2 linked regions of the Homo sapiens genome follow. Each later gene encodes a partner of the first gene's protein in a complex. Each region holds a gene or a part of one and is shown in the gene's direction. Other genes may lie near its edges. The genes, in order: FMNL1 and CDC42.

What was found.
Region 2: the proteins of FMNL1 (region 1) and CDC42 are in contact, whole or in part, in a crystal structure (PDB 4YDH), measured with the Homo sapiens proteins. Residues at the interface, in NP_005883.3 of Homo sapiens: Cys45 (codon at 7,326), Met46 (codon at 7,329), Asn47 (codon at 7,332), Leu48 (codon at 7,335), Pro49 (codon at 7,338), Lys52 (codon at 7,347), Leu56 (codon at 7,359), Tyr59 (codon at 7,368), Lys63 (codon at 7,380), Glu66 (codon at 7,389), Leu67 (codon at 7,392), Asp70 (codon at 7,401), Gln71 (codon at 7,404), Phe74, Tyr83, Arg122, Glu123, Glu125, Thr126, Ser127, Leu128, Arg129, Thr130, Asn131, His132, Ile133, Val136, His228, Met232, Arg235; in NP_001034891.1 of Homo sapiens: Val36, Phe37, Glu62, Asp63, Tyr64, Asp65, Arg66, Leu67, Arg68, Pro69, Leu70, Pro73, Lys94, Glu95, Lys96, Pro99, Glu100, His103, His104, Lys131, Asn132, Gln134.

What each region holds. Positions count from the first base shown.
Region 1 is NC_000017.11:45,223,282-45,233,339, forward strand, and holds part of FMNL1 (formin-like protein 1), read left to right. Parts: intron 1-7,322; coding exon 7,323-7,406; intron 7,407-9,085; coding exon 9,086-9,199; intron 9,200-9,942; coding exon 9,943-10,016; intron 10,017-10,058. UniProt on the Homo sapiens protein: May play a role in the control of cell motility and survival of macrophages. Plays a role in the regulation of cell morphology and cytoskeletal organization. Required in the cortical actin filament dynamics and cell shape.
Region 2 is NC_000001.11:22,083,709-22,090,806, forward strand, and holds part of CDC42 (cell division control protein 42 homolog isoform 1 precursor), read left to right. Parts: intron 1-2,730; coding exon 2,731-2,840; intron 2,841-2,960; coding exon 2,961-3,158; intron 3,159-6,234; coding exon of another isoform or gene 6,235-6,324; exon of another isoform or gene 6,325-7,098. UniProt on the Homo sapiens protein: Plasma membrane-associated small GTPase which cycles between an active GTP-bound and an inactive GDP-bound state. In active state binds to a variety of effector proteins to regulate cellular responses. Involved in epithelial cell polarization processes.

The sequences.
Region 1 (10,058 bases):
AGACACAGGCCGCAGAGGGTTCTGGCTCAGTTGGTGGCCCTCCATCTCCTTGACATCATTTCCCCTCGCCTGGCTGGTCATTAGGCCATACGTGCTAGATCCTCAGCATGGCTCCAGAGGGTCACCTCCTAACAGTTCCTGAAAATGTTGGCTTCTGTCCTCTCCCAAGAGAAGGCTGGGGGGAGTTTGGAGGAGCTATGGGGTGGCGAGGGATCCATCCTTGTGAAGACACCTTGCTTGATTAGAGGAGGGCAGGGACACTGAGGGACGCCTCACACCAGGCTGGCCCCTGACTTCTCCATCTCTCCACCTGCCCTGCTCCCCGCTCCCCAAGCATAGGACTTCACAAAGCTGAGCTGAGCTGAGCAGATGGGGGAGGGGGGAGAATGAGGAGACACAGTCTCTGGGGGCCATCTGGAGAGCCTGCATTGGTGGTGGGTCCTTGGACCCCTGCCAACCTGGTTGGAGGGACATGGGTCTGTCTTTCCGCCAAGTGTGTGTCTATGGTCGCGGGTGTGGGCTCTTGGGGTGAGGTCCTGACCCCAATCTTCTGTTTAGCACGCTGATGGGGAGGAGCCCTGTGAATAATTCAGACCAGGGGAAAATCCACAAGTCAAATGGTGAGGTTCTGATGTGTGTGTAGGACTTGTTTGCCCTGCTTGGATTTGTGGCTGTGATTGGCTGAGTCTGACACTAAATGCCACTGGGAGTCCCTGAGTACCAGGATGTGGAGGGGGGACACCCACAGGTGGGTCAGAGAGGGTGTGCTGGTGGAGAAAGTGGAGGTGCCTAGCAGAAATTTAGGGTAGCAGCACCCACCAGGGCTTACCCCCTACCAGGTGCCCAGGAACCCCAGTGTGTTTATACCTTCTTCCCGGGGTGGCTCAGCCTGTCTTATATCCTGTTGTGGGCAGGTTAAACCCAATCTAAGGACACTTGGCTAAGACCCTGGTTCCTCTCATTCCCCACCAGCAGGGGCATGAGGCTTGCCCCAGGGTGACAACCTTGACCTCTGCCTGAGGCTGCCCAGGGCTAAAGAGTTGGTTCAACCCTCAGGTCTGGCAGTGTGTATCGCAGAGTTGGTCGCTATGTGAACCCCCACCCGAACCACCATGGCCAGAGCTGAGTCCTGTCCTCGGTCAGTGTCTAAGAGGAGAAGAACCTTAGATTGCTGAGGGGAGGGGCCCACCGCCATCAGTGGTCCCCAGTCTCAATGGGAGAAGCACAGTCCTGCCCTCAGGGATGTAGTCCAGCGGCCCCAGGGAACCTCTTCCTTCCCCTTTTGTCCCTGGTGGGGCATAGGATCCTGATACCCCAAACTCTCCTTCCTCTCCTGGCTGTAGGACCTCTCTTGTGGGTGAGGGGTGTCCCCACTTACAGCCAGACAGGAGGTGCAGGGAGCCCTTCTCCCATGCAAGGGTGGGTGGTGGGGGGCTACCTTTCCAAGAAAGCTGTGAAAGAAAGGGGTGCCCCCTGCTTAAAATGGGGGTGGAGAGAAAGAGCAGGTTGAGCCAGGGTTTCCGGCTGCTGCCTTAGCAACAGCAGAGGAGCGATGGCTGCCCAGCCCCACGGGCCTGCTGTGATGGTGGGAACACCAGCCAGCGGGGCGCCAAGCTCTCGCCTCTCCTACGCCCATGCCCAAGGCTGGGTGTCTTCCAGCCCCTTCATGCCTTCCCCTGGGAGGCACGCAGGGTCAGGGACTGGGATGACAAGGCGACCTTTCCAGGCCTGCCAGAAGAGCCACACTTACACCTGGGCCTGGGACACCCCTGATCTGCCGGGCAGGGAGAATCCCATAACCTTGGGGCAGAGGGATCAAGGGAAGGTGTCAGGGGTGGTGTACGTGAGGCCAAAAGCCATGCTGGCATCCAGTAGCAGTGGAGAGGAATTTGCCTGATGGGTGCTCTTGGCTTGTGCCCAGAGGCCTGGGTGCCTGGCCAGGCTGTGTGGGGAGGTCAGGATGGCCCCATGTTGGGTGTGGGCCTGGAGTCCTGCTTGCAGCTGGGGCCCTTCCCTTCTGGGGCTGGCAGTAAAGGGCAGGAGGGACTGCAACTGAGGCACTGCCCCCTGGCCACTCCCACCTCCGGGACAGGGCAGATGAAGTGTGGGGACCTGGAGCCATGGGGTCGCTCAGGCCTTATGCCTGCCATTTGCAGGACAGAGGATCTCCGGGGGGATGTGGCCATGTGGTCTGATGTTGGGCTGGGCAGAGGGGAGGGGTGACATTCCCAGCAGGCAGGGCTGGCACATACTAACCCTGGAAAGCCACGGATGTGGTGGGCATGATTCACAGTGACATCTGGGGCTGACTGGCAGAGAGCTGGGTGAGACGGGTAGAAGCAGGTGCTCTCAGGGCTACCTCTGCCTTTTTCCTGGGAACATGGAGCCCTGGAAGGTGGCTTGGGGGGCCTTTGAGGGGACAGGGGTTACTTATGGGAAAGGCAGGGACGTTTCCTGAGCTTTGGGGTCATGATGTTTGGGGGTTGAGATTCATTTTTGTCACTACCTGCATGGCCCTGGACAAGTTACTTAACTTCTCTGAGCTGTAGTTTCCCTCACCTGTAAAAAGAGAATAATAATGGCATCTGCTGGCCTCCTAGGATTGTCGAGAGGGTGAAATAGAGGACTTCGCACAGTGCCTGACACAGAGCAGATGCTCAGTAACCCCCCTCCACTGTGAGAAAGGGGATAAAGCTGGAGCTGATCTGGTCCTCTCCATCTCAGGGCCCATTTAGCGGAGGGAGCCCAGACCCTGCCTGTCCCCTCCCTCCACCTCCACTACCAAGAGCACCCAAGGTTACTGTGCACTCCCCAGGAGCCCCAGATCCTTAGCTAGTGAGGGCCAGGCAACCTCCCCACCGTTATGCAGGTCACCAGCAGTGGGGCCCAGACCGAAAACTGCCTGGTGGCCGGAAACCGCTGGAGGGAGGGCCTACCTCTCCTGGAGGGTGGGGCAGCGATGGTGCTAACGGTAGCAGTGTGCACATGGGAGGGGGAGGGGAGGCCTCCACTTCCCCCTGAGAGAGGGTGTGCTGGTGGGGGGGTTCCCCAGTGAGTAAGAGCTCTGTGTGGGCAACAACAGGAAGCGTGGGGCGCTGGGTGGCAGGAAGTGGAGCTGGCTGTTCCTGGTTCCTCAGATGGGGGATCTGGGCCAGGCTGTCTGCAGAAGACCCCTGGGGGCCAGGACCCACATTTCCCATTCCCCGGCTGCTCCTTCTTTGGAGGAAGCCGGGTCTTCCTTGCTAGCTTGCCACCGAGGCCACCCTGGGCAAGCACCTTAACCTCCTTGAGTCTCAGTTTCCCATTTGTGAAATAGGGATTATAACAGTATCTATTTTGTAGGCTTGTTGAGGTTTAAATGAGTTTTGATGTAAAGTGCTTAGAACGGCACCTAGCACCCAGTGTTTGGGATTGAGAGATTAATTCTGAGTGAAAAAAAGTGTCTGGGGAGCGTTTGTTATTGTTACTGTTGTCGGTGTTGTTTTCCTCCTACCAGCCTGGATGATATAGGTAGTGGCTTCCACCCTGCTTGCCCTTGTCCCAGCTGTGGGGACCCTTGAACTCTGATGGGAGAAGCTGTTAGCTCTTTGGGTCCTCAGCACCTGATCCTGGGGCTGGGTCTCCTCATAGATCTCCTGTAAGCCTGGAATTGCTTATAAGAGCCCCAGAAAATCTATATGCCAAAGTTTAAAAAAGGAGGTAAAATTGATTGTGTTTGGATATGTGCCGAGAACACTACAACTAAGGTTGAGACCATATAGAGGTGGGCAGGTGGCAGGGAGATGGATGGGGGAGTGGGGGCTGGGGGACAGGCTCAGCTTCTGGGCCCATCGGGCTGAGGAAAGCCTGTGGGGCTGGCCTGAGACTGGGATTGATGTCCAAGTTCAGGGGTACCCTGGGGCTTGAAGGGCTAGGCCATAGGGAGAGATGGGCAGGTGGACTGAGACGTAGGCTCCGCTCAAACTGAAAGTGAAACCCTAGGGTGTGGCTGTGTCCAGATGTGGACGCAGCCCCTTCAGCCTCCTGGGACACTGTCTCAGAAGTAAGCACTGGTGTGGGGGAGGTGGGGGAAGGGCTCTTAGCAGTGTCTTTTGGGGGCTGGTCTTAGGTGAGCAGATGCTGGGGGTCCCCTCTCACACTCAGGGCAGGGAGGGAGGAGAATGGTCCCCACACATTCTAATAGAAAGATGTGGGGAATCAGTTCCTTTTCTCGGCCACACCCTAAAAGATGAATCCTGTCTCTTTCCTCATCTGGCCCAAAGCACTAAAGGCAGCAGGGAAAGTAGGCTGAGGCTAGTTAAGGTTTGGCCAAAGCCTTGGAGACAAGTCTGTGTTTCTGGATGTTTTCACAAACTTCTGCTCACCCTACCATCCCCTACCCTGGGGTCTTCCATGGACCCCTGCCCCTCCACCTCTTCTGCCTCTGTGAAGTGCTTCTTCATAGTGTTAGGCCACTGAAGAGCTTTGTTAAATCCAAACTCAGCTTCTCACTGAGTGTTCCAGGAGCTCCGTGAGTGTGAGGCTCCGGTGAGGGAGTGCGCCCATTTTATGGAGGAGGAAGCTGAGGTCCAAGGGGGCAAAGAAGCTGTAGGGCTAGTTGGGCCCAGAGCCTGGGTCTTTTGAAGCCAGCTCCAGGTCCTCCATGTGGCAGCTCATAGCTGTCCCTCCCTGCCCCCCTCAGGAGGCAGGTATCCCGCCCACCTGGACTGCCAGCCCCTCCCCTCCTACTTGAGCACTGTCAGCCAACTCTCCGTGTGTCCCCCAGCCCCCCATCCCATGGTGCTGCTGCCTCGCTGAAGGCCCTGGTCTGGGGGTCTGTTCCTGTTTTCAGGGTGGCCTCACTCCACCCCGAGTGAGTGGCATCTGATGGCCCCTCTCCTACTCCCTGGAGTGCCTGGCTCCTCGGTGGGCACAGCCACAGCTGAGGAGCAGCTGCTAATTAGTGTTCGGCGCTGTCAGAGCTATTTCTGATTTCTGAGCCTAAATTTAGCCTGTCTGGCAGGCTGGCATGTGGGCCTGGGGGCCTGAGAAGGCCCAGGTGGGGAAGGGGCATGGGCACCCTGCCCTCCACCACTGTTCAGACAGGTGCTCCAGGCCCCAGCAGAGGCCTCCCCTCGGCAGTAACAACCAGGGGGCTGTCCTGGGGGAGTGGACCCAGGTGGTGGCTCAGAGTCAGCTCCAGGCTCAAAGCCAGCCCAGCTCTCCTCTTACTGGCTTCGTAACCTTGGGCAGGTCACTAAACTAATCTGTGCCTGCACCTGTGAGGTGGGAATGTTAACGGTGCCAGTGACGGCAGTGAGGGTGGAAGGCAGTCGTCGGCGCGCAGGGCTCGGAGCAGTGCCTTGCACAGTAGGCATTCTGGTGGAGCTGGCCACCTGACTGTTGGAGATGTCATTATGACTAGTTACTGCCCCTAGAAATGCCGCTGGGGCCATTCCAGAACCATAAAGTTCCCTGGGTGGGTGAGGGCCTGGGAGGATTCATGTCGGGAAGCAGCTGTCCCCTCTGTGGCTCTGTGCTGGGCTCAGCCATCCCCTTACTCCCTGGCCACCGTCTTTTGTGCCGGCCACGGCTCCAGTTTCCCTGGCACTGCTGGCCCTGTCTCTCCTCTTTGTCCCTTTTCTCCACCTTGCTCCCACCTTAGCCCTGCCCCACCCTTTGTCTCTGTGGGGTGGGGGTGACTGAGAGACATCATCGAGAGAGACAGACAGATGGACAGGGACAGAGAGACAGAGAATGACCTCGCCTCCTTTGTACTCCTGGGCGGTTCCCCCACCCCCTGCCCCTGTGGTAGCAGGAGCTGTCCTGGCCCTTGGAGGGCTGGGGGAGGGCGGCTGATGAGACAGCGGTGGTTTCCTCAATCCAGGCTCACTTTCGCAATAGGGGAGAGGAATGACGTATTCCACCCCCTTCAGCCGCTGGGGGCGGGGGGCCTGGCGGAGGGGCAGTTTCACCTCTCCAGCAGGGCCTGGCCGGAAAGCTTAGGCAATGGAGGCTGAGCGCACCCAGCTTCCTGTTGTCTGGGCCTGACCCAAGGCAGTGATTTTGGGGGTAAGGTCTGGCTGGAGCCCCAGAACTAGGCCCAGCACCCTGGAGGGGAAGCTGGCTGGGGAGTCTCAGGTGGGTGTGGCCCTCTGACTGCTCCAGCTGTGGCGTCTCTGCAGAGCCACATGACTGAGGGTGTGGAGCGTGAACCACCATGGCTGGTGAGCCCCTCAGGGTCTCCCACATCCCCGATGGAGACTCTTACTCAACTCAGATCTCCTTGAGGGCAGGAACTGTCTTTTTGGGCCAGACATATAGAAGGCTCTCAATAACCTGGGGTTTACTAAATTGAAGGGAACTGGCCTCATCTTTTGGGTCTGTCAGGGAGACAAGCCAAGTCTGGGGGTCCAGAAAGCCCCTGGTGCTATTGACACCTGGTTGATTCGGCAGCCCTGGGCTGGCGCTAACCTGCTCCGTGGTGGCAGGGGCACCGTACCCTTGTCATCTGTGGCCAGGGGAGGAGGACCCAGGCAGAGCTCTGTTGACCTTTCTCAGCTCCTGGGGGAGTCCCAGCTGGGCGGCCCCCACCACAGACCCAGGGCACTGGCTCTTCTCCCCAGTGCTGTGGCCGAGTGACCTTCCCCGCAAATCTCCCCGCCCCTGCAGCTGTGATCTGGAACTCCCTGCCTGCTGACATGGCCGCCCTCAGCTCCCCCAGCCCTCTCCTTCCTTTCTCAGCCTTCTCCTCCAAGTGGGAGGGGGCTGGAGAGGGATGAGGAGAAGGCTGCTGTCCACTCTCCTTGCAAGAGATTTCCTGGTGTTCGTGAGGCACTGGTGCCCTGGGCCTGGTCTGTGTACACGTGGGATCTGGTGGCACGTGGAGGTGGGACACTGGCCACTGGCCACTGGCCACACTTTGGCCTGACTGGTGATGGCTCCCCTGTTAGCTTCCCACCAGAATGGGGGAAGAGATGATGCCCCAACAGGAAAACTGGGGCCCAGAAGTGTCTCAGGTCCCCAGAGAGGTAGGCTGACAACCCACGCTCCTGCCTGCACACCAGGCAGGCCAGGGAGGCGGTGTGGGGGGTGACACAGCGCAGGCAGACTCGGATTCAAATCCTGCTCTCCCTTCTAGCTGGTGTGCCCCGGGAAAGGTGCTCTGTCTCTCTTGGCCTTGGTCTTCTCATTGGATAACACTACGTATCTCCTAGGGTCAGAGGATTCATGGGGGTGATGCACCTCCTAGGGAGCCAAGTGGGTTTCCCCCAAATGCCCATTCTCCCCTCTCCCCTTGTTGGGGCCCCAGGCTCAGGGGTCTTTGTCCTCCCTGTCCCCAGAACTGCATGAACTTGCCCCCAGACAAGGTCCAGCTGCTGAGCCAGTATGACAACGAGAAGAAGTGGGAGCTCATCTGTGATCAGGTAGGTGCCAGCACTGCCCAGCCACCCCTTCCCTCCCACTGTCAGTACCCCACCCTGACCAGGCTGGGGCTATGGGGAGAGGGGCACCGCCATACTGCCCATGGAGCCAAGACTCTGCTCAGTGGCCAATGTAGCACCTGGGGAGGGTGCTGGGGTCTGCAGGACTCCCAAATCCCTTTCTCTTGAACTCCCCAAAAGACCTTGTGAGTCACTAGCAGGGCTGGGTCAGCTTCAGAGGAGCTGGCAGAGCTGGTTCAGGCTGGGGCAGCTGGGGCCTCGCACTGTCACTGTCCTCCTGCTGAGCTTCCTGAGAAACCTCTCTGGACTGGGGAAGGGAGAGGGCGACCCTGGGGTTGGACATCTTCACCTGACCCCATGGGAGGGAGGGAGGAAGGGGCGGGAATTCCTGCCCTTTTGCCTTGGGTCCAGAGGAGCTGCAGTTGACCAGCAACTCCCCAAGGCCAGCCACTTTGGACCCCTGCTTTGGTGCTCCGTCCAGGTGCCTGGACTCACGGGTCACTCAGCTGTCCCCACCCCTCCAGCTTCAAGGGCTGCGGTCGGCCATGGGCCGACCCTCTCCCAGCGCTGGGCTGGGTGGGGCTCGGCTGCCGCAGGGATTCTGTGAAGGAGGGAGGCTGCAGAGGCTGGGGGTGGGGAGTTGGGAGCTGAGAGCCTCCCCTGGGAGCCAAGGCTGGGCCTTTGCCTCCTGCTAATGAAGCAGATGGCCTGAGCCGGCTGGGCAGCAGTCCAGGGGTAAGGGCTGGGAAGTGGGAAGAGGGTGGAGAGCTGCCCCTGGAGTCTCTGGTAGGGGTCCCCTTGGAGCAGCTCAGCCTGACATCTCAGAGGTTGGGGGCTCAAAGGGCTGGAAGAAGTGAAAGTCTGAGGGGTGGCTCGGCGAATCTGAGGGGTTTGGGTTGGAAGGGTGGGGGCCCCTCTGGGGAGGGGTCTTTGCCGTGGTCCCTGCCTCTTTGTGTGAGTGGCCGCTGGAGCCTGCAGTGGGGTGGGGGGATTAGGAATTGCATCACTGAGCACAGGAGAGGAGCACGCAGGTTCCTGCCAACGCAGATGTGCAGGGCGGCTGGGTCCGAGTCCTACCCAGGTGCTGGGTCCCCTTCACGAGGCACCTCCAGCCGTCCTTCCCCGCCGTATGCCAGCTCTGGTCCAGGGAGGGCACCACCTGCTGGCTAGACTGAGTTCCTTCCCACCCCAGGGCGGGGCCTACGGCAGGACTGACCCCTGCATAGTCCACCCCAAAGCTGTGTCAGGGCTGTGGCCTGGGAGCCCATACAGGAAGGGCAGGCTAGGCCTAGGCCAGGGGTTTTTAAAGTGGCCCGATGCTAGCTGGGCGTGGTGGTGCACACCCGTAGTCCCAGCTACCTGGGAGGCTGAGGTAGGAGGATCGCTTGAGCCCGGGAGTAGGAGGCTCCAGTGAACTATGTTCGTGCCACAGCACTCCAGCCTGGGCCACAGGGCAAGAAAAGAGAAAGATAAAAGAAAAGAAAAAAAAAGAAAGTGGCTTGGTGGACTGTTTGGGTTTATACCTTTGGTATTTCAGAGGCGTCTTAAGAAAGCCTGGGACCTCAGATCGGAGCTGAGAATGGGACACTGGGACGAGAACTGGTCATTTGCCCTGGGGTAGCTCTGGCTGGTTTTCTGTACACCCCATTCCATCTCCCCAGGAGCGGTTTCAAGTCAAGAATCCCCCCGCAGCCTACATCCAGAAGCTGAAGAGCTATGTGGATACTGGTGGGGTCAGCCGAAAGGTAGCAGCTGATTGGATGTCCAACCTGGGGGTACATGTCTCCCCTCTTTACTCTGTCCCTTTCCCCCACATTTTCCAAGCTCTGGGCAGCTGGAGTAACTGTGTGTACAGACTTTTCTATGTGCGTGTGTGGGTGCATGTATGAGTGTGTGTGTGTGTTTGTGTGTCTGTGTATTTATAGGGGAATGAGAGTGCCCTGGGTGTGCACTTTAGATATTCCTCTGTACATCCTGTGTGTGCTTACATGGACACATTCTGTGTACTTATACTGTGTGTATACACATGTGCAGCCCATATGTCCATACATAGGTGTGTGTGTATACTATGTGTGTACTTTGTCCACTTATGGATGTGTGTGTGTACCATTGAGTCCATATCTAGGAGAGAGAGAGAATGTGTGTGTGTGTGTGTCCATGTATGGATGTGTGGATATTCTATGTCTGTATTTAGAGTGCAGGTATATGGATGTTCATGTGCTGTGTGTGTGTGTGCGCACACACACTCTGCCTCTTTGTGTGTGTGCATGTGTATACCTTGTGTGCCCATGTATCGGGGGTGTGTGTACCCTGCTTGTCTATGTATGGGGGAGCACATGTAGCCTGTGAGTTCTTATTCTGCTGGGCAGGTGTGTGGAGGTGGTGGGGGAGGCTGAGCATGAAAGGCCACTTGTGCCAGTTGGAGGAGGGTGGGCGCTGCTGCCTGCTGCCTCAGGACTTGGTGGGCCTGTGGGAGGCCGGGCTCCACCCACCAGCCTTCCCTGTTCTCGGTCCCCAGTTTAAGAGGCGAGTTCAGGAGTCCACGCAGGTGCTACGGGAGCTGGAGACCTCCCTGAGGACCAACCACATTGGGTGAGTGAGGGCTCAGATCTTCCTCTCTGGGCCTAGGAAGGC
Region 2 (7,098 bases), on another chromosome or scaffold:
TGAGTTCTTTTACCACTGAATGGTGTTGGCACCCTTATCAAAAATTATTTGACCATATATGTGAGTGTTTATTTCTGGGTTCCCTTTGCAGTCAGCCCTGTCCCTTGACCTGGTTCCAGGCAACCACTGATCTGCTTTCTTTGTTTCTACTGTTTTGCTTTTCTAGGGTTTCATATAAATGGAACCATACAATATGTAGTCTTTTGTGTGACTATTTTTACATAGCATAATGTTTGTGAGAGTTGTCCATGTTGTGTGTATTGGTAGTTGTTTCTTTTGATTGCCGAGTGTTATTCTGTTCTATGAATATATCACAGTTTTGTTTATCCATTAACAAGTTGATGGATGTTTGGGTTCCAGTTTTAATACTGGTGCTATGAATTGCTTCCACGTTTTAGCTATTTTGAATAATGTTGCTATCAACATGGGTATACAGATACCTTGTTGACACCCTGCTTTCAGTTCTTTTGGGGTATATACCCAGAAGTGGAATTGTTGGATCATGTTTTTAATTTTTTTGAGGAACCTCCGTATTGTTTTCCACAGTGGCTGTCCCATTTTATATTCCTACCAACAGTACGTGGGGTTTGATATAGTCACATTCTTCTGTTCGACACTTATTTCCTGTTTTTTTTTTTTTTTTTTTTTTTTTAATTGTAGCCATCCTAATTAGTGTGAGGTGGTATCTAATTGTGGTTTTGATTTGTATTTCCTTAATGATTAGTGATGTTGAGCATCTTATGGCCATTTATATATCTTTGGAGAAAGGTCTGTTTAATCAAGTTCTTTGCCCATTTTTGAATTGGGATTTTTTTTTTGGGGTAAGTTTTAGGAGTTCTTTGTAGATTCCGGGTATTAATCTCTTATCACATACACGATTTGCATATATTTTTTCCTATTTTGTGGGTTGCGTTTTTATTCTGTTGATACTATTTTCTGATGTATAAAATTTTCACAGCTTCATGAAGTTTGTCTATTTTTTGGTGGTTTGGTGTGATATCCAAACAAATTATTGCCAAGTCCACCTGAATCTTTTGCCCTATGTTTTCTGGGAGTTTTAAAGTTTTAGGTCTAACATTTAGACCTTTTATCCATTTTGAGTTAATTTTAGTATATAGTATTAGGTAAGGTTTCATCTTTGTCTTTTGCTTGTGAATATGTCATTTTCTCAGCACCATTTATTGAAGAGTCCTTTTACCACTGAATGGTCTTGGCACCCTTATCAAAAATTATTTGAGCTAGGCTAGGCACGGTGGCTCACACCTGTAATCTTAGCACTTTGGGAGGCTGAGGTGGGCAGATCACCTGAGGTCAGAAGTTTAAGACCAGCCTGGCCAACATGGTGAAACCCTGTGTCTACTAAAAATACAAAAATTAGCCTGGTGCGGTGGTGTGTGCCTATAGTCCCAGCTACTCAGAAGGTGGAGGCAGGAGAGTCTCTTGAACTGGGGAGGTGGAGGTTGCAGTGAGCCGAGATTGTGCCACTGCACTCCAGCCTGGGTGATAGAGTGAGACTCTGTCTAAAAAAAAAAAAAAAAAAGAAAAATCATTTGCCCACATATGTAAGGGTTTATTTCTGGGTTCTCTAGTCTATTCCATTGTCTTATATATCTCCCTATGCCAATACCGCACTGTTTTGATTATTGTAGCCTTGTAGTAAGTTTTGAAATCAGGAAATGGGAGTGCTTCAGCTTTATTCTTTTTCAAGATTATTTTGTCTATTGTCCCTTGTTTCAAGATTACTATCCCTTGTTGGGATTTTGATAGGGATTGCATTGAGTCTGTAGGTTGCTTTGGATAATGTTGACATGTCAACAATATTAAGTCTTCCAGTTCATGAATGTGGGATGTGTTTCCATTTATTTATGTCTTCTTTAATTTCTTTCAGCAGTTTTGAATTTTTTTGTTATCCAAGTCTTTTGCCTCTGATTAAGTTAATTCTAAGTATTTTTATTATTTTGAGTATCGATTAATTCTTGCTAAATTTGTTTTCTAGGCTTTATCAGTTTCAGATACCGGTCTTATATACACGCATTAACTAAATATGTGAACCTCTGTTTGTAGTCATGATGGGCAGTGGATTTTGTCATCTGGGTTTCAGTGAGGTTTTTCTTTCCTTAGATGATTTCACTGTGATTGTTTCTTTACCATATCTGAGATGGAGTCTCACTCTGTCACCCAGACTGGAGTACAGTGATGCCATCTCGGCTCACTGCAACCTCCGCCTTCTGGGTTCACGTGATTCTTCTGCCTCAGCCTTCCAAGTAGCTGGGATTACAGATGTGCACCACCACACCCGGCTAATTTTTATATTTTTAGTAGAGATGAGGCTTCATCATGTTGGCCAGGCTGGTCTTGAACTCCTGACCTCAGGTGATCCGCCTGTCTCGGCCTCCCAAAGTGCTGGGATTACAAGGATTGATTTTTAACCATTTCTGTAGCAAGAGTTTATTATTACATTTATTATTGGGTTTCTAATGGACACAAAGATTGAACACCACAAACTGGTAATAAAAGCAAATAACATAATAGTAAATTCATTGCTGTTCTGAGTGCTTGAAGTTTGTAGAATTAGCTGATTGAGAATATTGCCCACATATTATATTACAAAGCCATACATTTTATTAGATAAGTAAGTTGCTTTTTGAGTAATGACCAGCATGCTTTTAACACTTTGAGGACACCAAGATTCAGTTGCTGAATTCTCTCCAATATTTTTCTTTTTTCTAGGGCAAGAGGATTATGACAGATTACGACCGCTGAGTTATCCACAAACAGATGTATTTCTAGTCTGTTTTTCAGTGGTCTCTCCATCTTCATTTGAAAACGTGAAAGAAAAGGTAAGCTGATCAGATACTCTTGCCCTAAGAAGATCATCTCAGAATTTCTACTGACCTGTTATAAATAGCATTAGAGGCTTGTTGATTAACAAAGGTGTATTTTAAAATACCTTTTTTTAGTGGGTGCCTGAGATAACTCACCACTGTCCAAAGACTCCTTTCTTGCTTGTTGGGACTCAAATTGATCTCAGAGATGACCCCTCTACTATTGAGAAACTTGCCAAGAACAAACAGAAGCCTATCACTCCAGAGACTGCTGAAAAGCTGGCCCGTGACCTGAAGGCTGTCAAGTATGTGGAGTGTTCTGCACTTACACAGGTAAGAATGGCATGAAACCCCATGTGTATTTATGGTCGAGTCATTTATTAGAGCATTAGGATACAGGAGTTATTTCTAACAGTGATCAGCAGTGCTCAAAGATGCCCAGCAAGAATATGAACAGCTTCATATTGTATGTTCTTTTGTTAGAGGCCTCTGTGTTTTTTGGAGAATATTATTAGTTCCTAAACCCCTTGTGTTGGTAAGCTCTCGTATTGTACTGAATGATTCGTAGTGGTCAGGGTTGTGTTAAAACAAAAACCTTACAGGAAAGGTTCAGATAAGCATAAACTTGCAAGAGACGATGTGAATGATTTTTTTTTTTTCTAAACACTTAAATTTTCATCTGAATATGTCTGATCTTTTCTTGCCAATTCTGACAATTGATACTATACTGTTTCTTGGGCAATTCAACCAGGATAGGGAATTAGTCATAATAATTGAGACTTTAATGTCAAAGAAGGCAGCCATGGCTATTTCTGCCACAGTTCTCAAGCGTGCTTTATATAGTGTCCCTATTCCTATATTTTTGGAAGTATTCCTTCCTCATGCATTCCGGCCGTTTTTGAGTGATTTAATTGGAACTCCTTTTGTAGTTTGATGGGAAACTCAGATTTTGAAGATAGGGAGCAATGTTAGGGTATTTGGAATGGGACTTGTAACTGATGTGTATGGTTTAAACTTTTTCACCTTCATGATATCGCTGATTCCGTCCTTTGAGTACTGTTCTGGGGGCAAAGGAAAAGGTTATGGAAATAATTAGCACAAAAGTTTTATGTTCTACTGGTACTGGTGCTTTGAAGTTTGAACACTGAGCAGACATGCCTAATAGGGCAAGATTGAAGGGTGGAGGTTTCTAATAATTATATTAAACTCATTATATTTATGCTTATGTTTTCAGGTAATTCATTCATTTTTATTGTGTTTCTAAAAAACACTATTGGATTCTTAACTACGTGTATACTAGGGTAAATGGCATATATGATTACTTATTACATATGCACTAGGTATTTAGTTTATAGGGCCTAGTGCATAATTTAATAGTAAGTTTAGTACTTGGTTGGATATTTACAGATAAAACTTTTATGCTTAACTGGGATATCCCTCAAAATAACTTCGAGGCCTAGTATCAGATGATTTAAACATAATCTTCTAATCCTCGTTTTTTTGGGCAGTTTAGTGCTATTATAGAAGCAGTTATTTAAAAGTTTAGAAGATTTTACACCTTCTCATGCATAGCAACTGTTTTGAGAGTTTTAAAAAATGCCTGGTGCTTCTCTGTGTGTTTTAGTAACATTCCCAGAAAAGTGTGCCTGTGTGTGTATATTGGGGGAGACAAGGGAAAGTCATGTGTGAAACACTCATGTCCATGTTAGACACTAATTCTGTGTGCTTCTGATGCATACCTCTGTTCTCTAGATATGGGTTGCTTTGAGGGAAGACACATAGGCCCTGTGGATTCACTTTTAGGTTACTAGTGATGCTTTAGATAATTGGATGCTTTTAATGTAAGATTTTTACAGTATCAACAGGTGTATATAGTAAATCCGTTTGTAGAGAGTATGAAGTTTAAAAGGTCTTAGCAGGTACATTTTTCTTACCAGAGTTTGAAGTATGGAGAAGTCAAAAGAGGGGAAGTTAGAAAATGGGGTCTGTGGTTGTGTTTGGGAGCTAGAACTTTGAGGCTTACAGATTCTGTTTGTTGATTCCTCTAAAACTAAAGTCTTAATATAAACAGATGGTGGTCAAGCAAAGATTAGTTTTGTTTCATAGAGCATTTGTTGATCTTCGTCCATGGTAAGCAAGAAAGGAATTCCTTCTTGTTAAGGGATACACTCCAGTTTCTAATAGTCCTCCTCCTCTTTTTTTCCTTATAAAGTATATTTCCCTTTCTGTACTCCTTCCTTCCTTTTATATTTTACTGCCAGAGTTGGTTCCTAGATGTGCAGAAAGAATTGCAGTGGAATTTTAACTTTTATGTGGCATTTCTACTTTGTAAATGATGTAGAAAGAGGAAGGCTTTTTAACTTTTGCTGCTTTTAAAGAATTTACTGCTGTTTCTGATTTATTTTGTGTCTAATGTGACATGTGGGTACCAGTCCTGTGGGATGTCATGGATGGGGGCAGGGTGGAGGTGGGAACACTTGGGGTGGTCTGGGGTTGGCACTTACAATTGGAGCTGTGTTCTGGGACTTTTAGGACATATTTACTTGGGATCAAACTGATCAAACTAAAGAACATGTGAAACAACCTTGGGTGGTAAACTTGTGGCTTCAGATTTAGGTGATTTTAGGTGAGTCTGTAGACCTGGGTCCTAAGTACCACCAATGCTGAGTCACACTGTCATGTTGGAGTTTCTGGCTGAGGTGTAAGTGTATTTCTGTATCTTAATCCCCGTAAGATCTGAGAATATTCTTCGTTTTCACTCCATGCTTTATGCTCTGATACCCATGCAGACATCTTAAAGCACTGGACTGCTTGCTAAAACTCATTCTAGGACCCCATTCTTTGTTTTCTTATGACTTGGGTGGTGGTTACTTGCTCTAATAACATTGCTGAATAACTGAAGTGTATGCTGTTTTTAGAGTCTGTTCTTTAAAGTCCTTCTAGTTGGTACTGTTGCACAATTAACACTTTTTAAATGTCTGAACCTTTCCGTTCTGGGAAACCAGTTTACTCTGAAATCTTGATTAATCACATTCAGATATGTCATTGAACCTAGAAACACATAGCATGCCTGTTAGTCTGCTATTTGTGTCCTTCAGTTATTCAGGGGCTGAATTCACATAAGCCTGAAATTGTAATAGATTTATTTCCAAAATGTGTTAGAAGTCAACATATTGCATTTTAATAAAAATTGCTTTCCTGCTCAGTTAACCTTGCTTGAGGTGAAGTTTTTGGTCAGTTATCTACTCTCCTGGTTATAATGGGCTTAAGATCTAGCATTCTAGCGTTTTTCTTAAGGCACATTGCTTCTGTGAATTCAGCTCATTTAATCCGGACTGCTGTTGTACCTGCTAGTCTTTCTAATCCTCTAACCTGGCTGCTATTCTCTCTCCTCCCCTCTGTCTTGTAGAGAGGTCTGAAGAATGTGTTTGATGAGGCTATCCTAGCTGCCCTCGAGCCTCCGGAAACTCAACCCAAAAGGAAGTGCTGTATATTCTAAACTGTTTTCTCCTTCCCTTCTTTGCTGCTGCTTCCTGTCCCACTACTGTAGAAAGATCGTTTAAAAACAAAGGAATAAAACCATCCTGTTTGAAAGCCTCTGCGTCTTTTTACTCACCACCTTAGAGCAACCTCTGTATTAGTTTTTGATCAAGAATGCAATATCATATAAATTTTTTGTGATCAGTAGTCAAGTTGGACTTGTTTTAACGTTCTGCTGCTTGAGTTGCCTGATGCTCAGAGCTTTTTGGTTTGGATTACTATTGCAAAAGGGAACTTGGTCTGGCTTTAAGAATGTCCTCTTGGAGAAAATAACAAGAGTTTTAACACTTCTAGATCTTAGTTCTAGATGGAGAAAGTAACACAAACATCATTTTACTCTTATGATCAATTGTTAATTGTAATTGCATGACAAACCTTATGGAAAAGGGGTGACCTAGTAGAGTGTAATGGGGAAGGGAGGATTCTTTTCTGGTTTTCCTTTGTGCGGTGAAACTTTGTGTTGCTGTTGCTTTGGCTGTCTGTGCTGTAGTGGAGTATTTGTCAGTCTGGGGTGGGGAAGATATTGATGTATCTGCTACTGCTTTATGAGTTCATTTGTTACATTATCTTTTAAGAATAACATCCATTTAAACAGTTGACTTACAGTTTGTTAATGCTGAGATGTAAAGCTGCCACCTTTATATTTTCCTGCTTCTGATTTTATTGTGAGGGAAATATACAATTGTGGTTACCTTCAAATTTTGAAATTAAAAATATACAACCGTTTGTATAA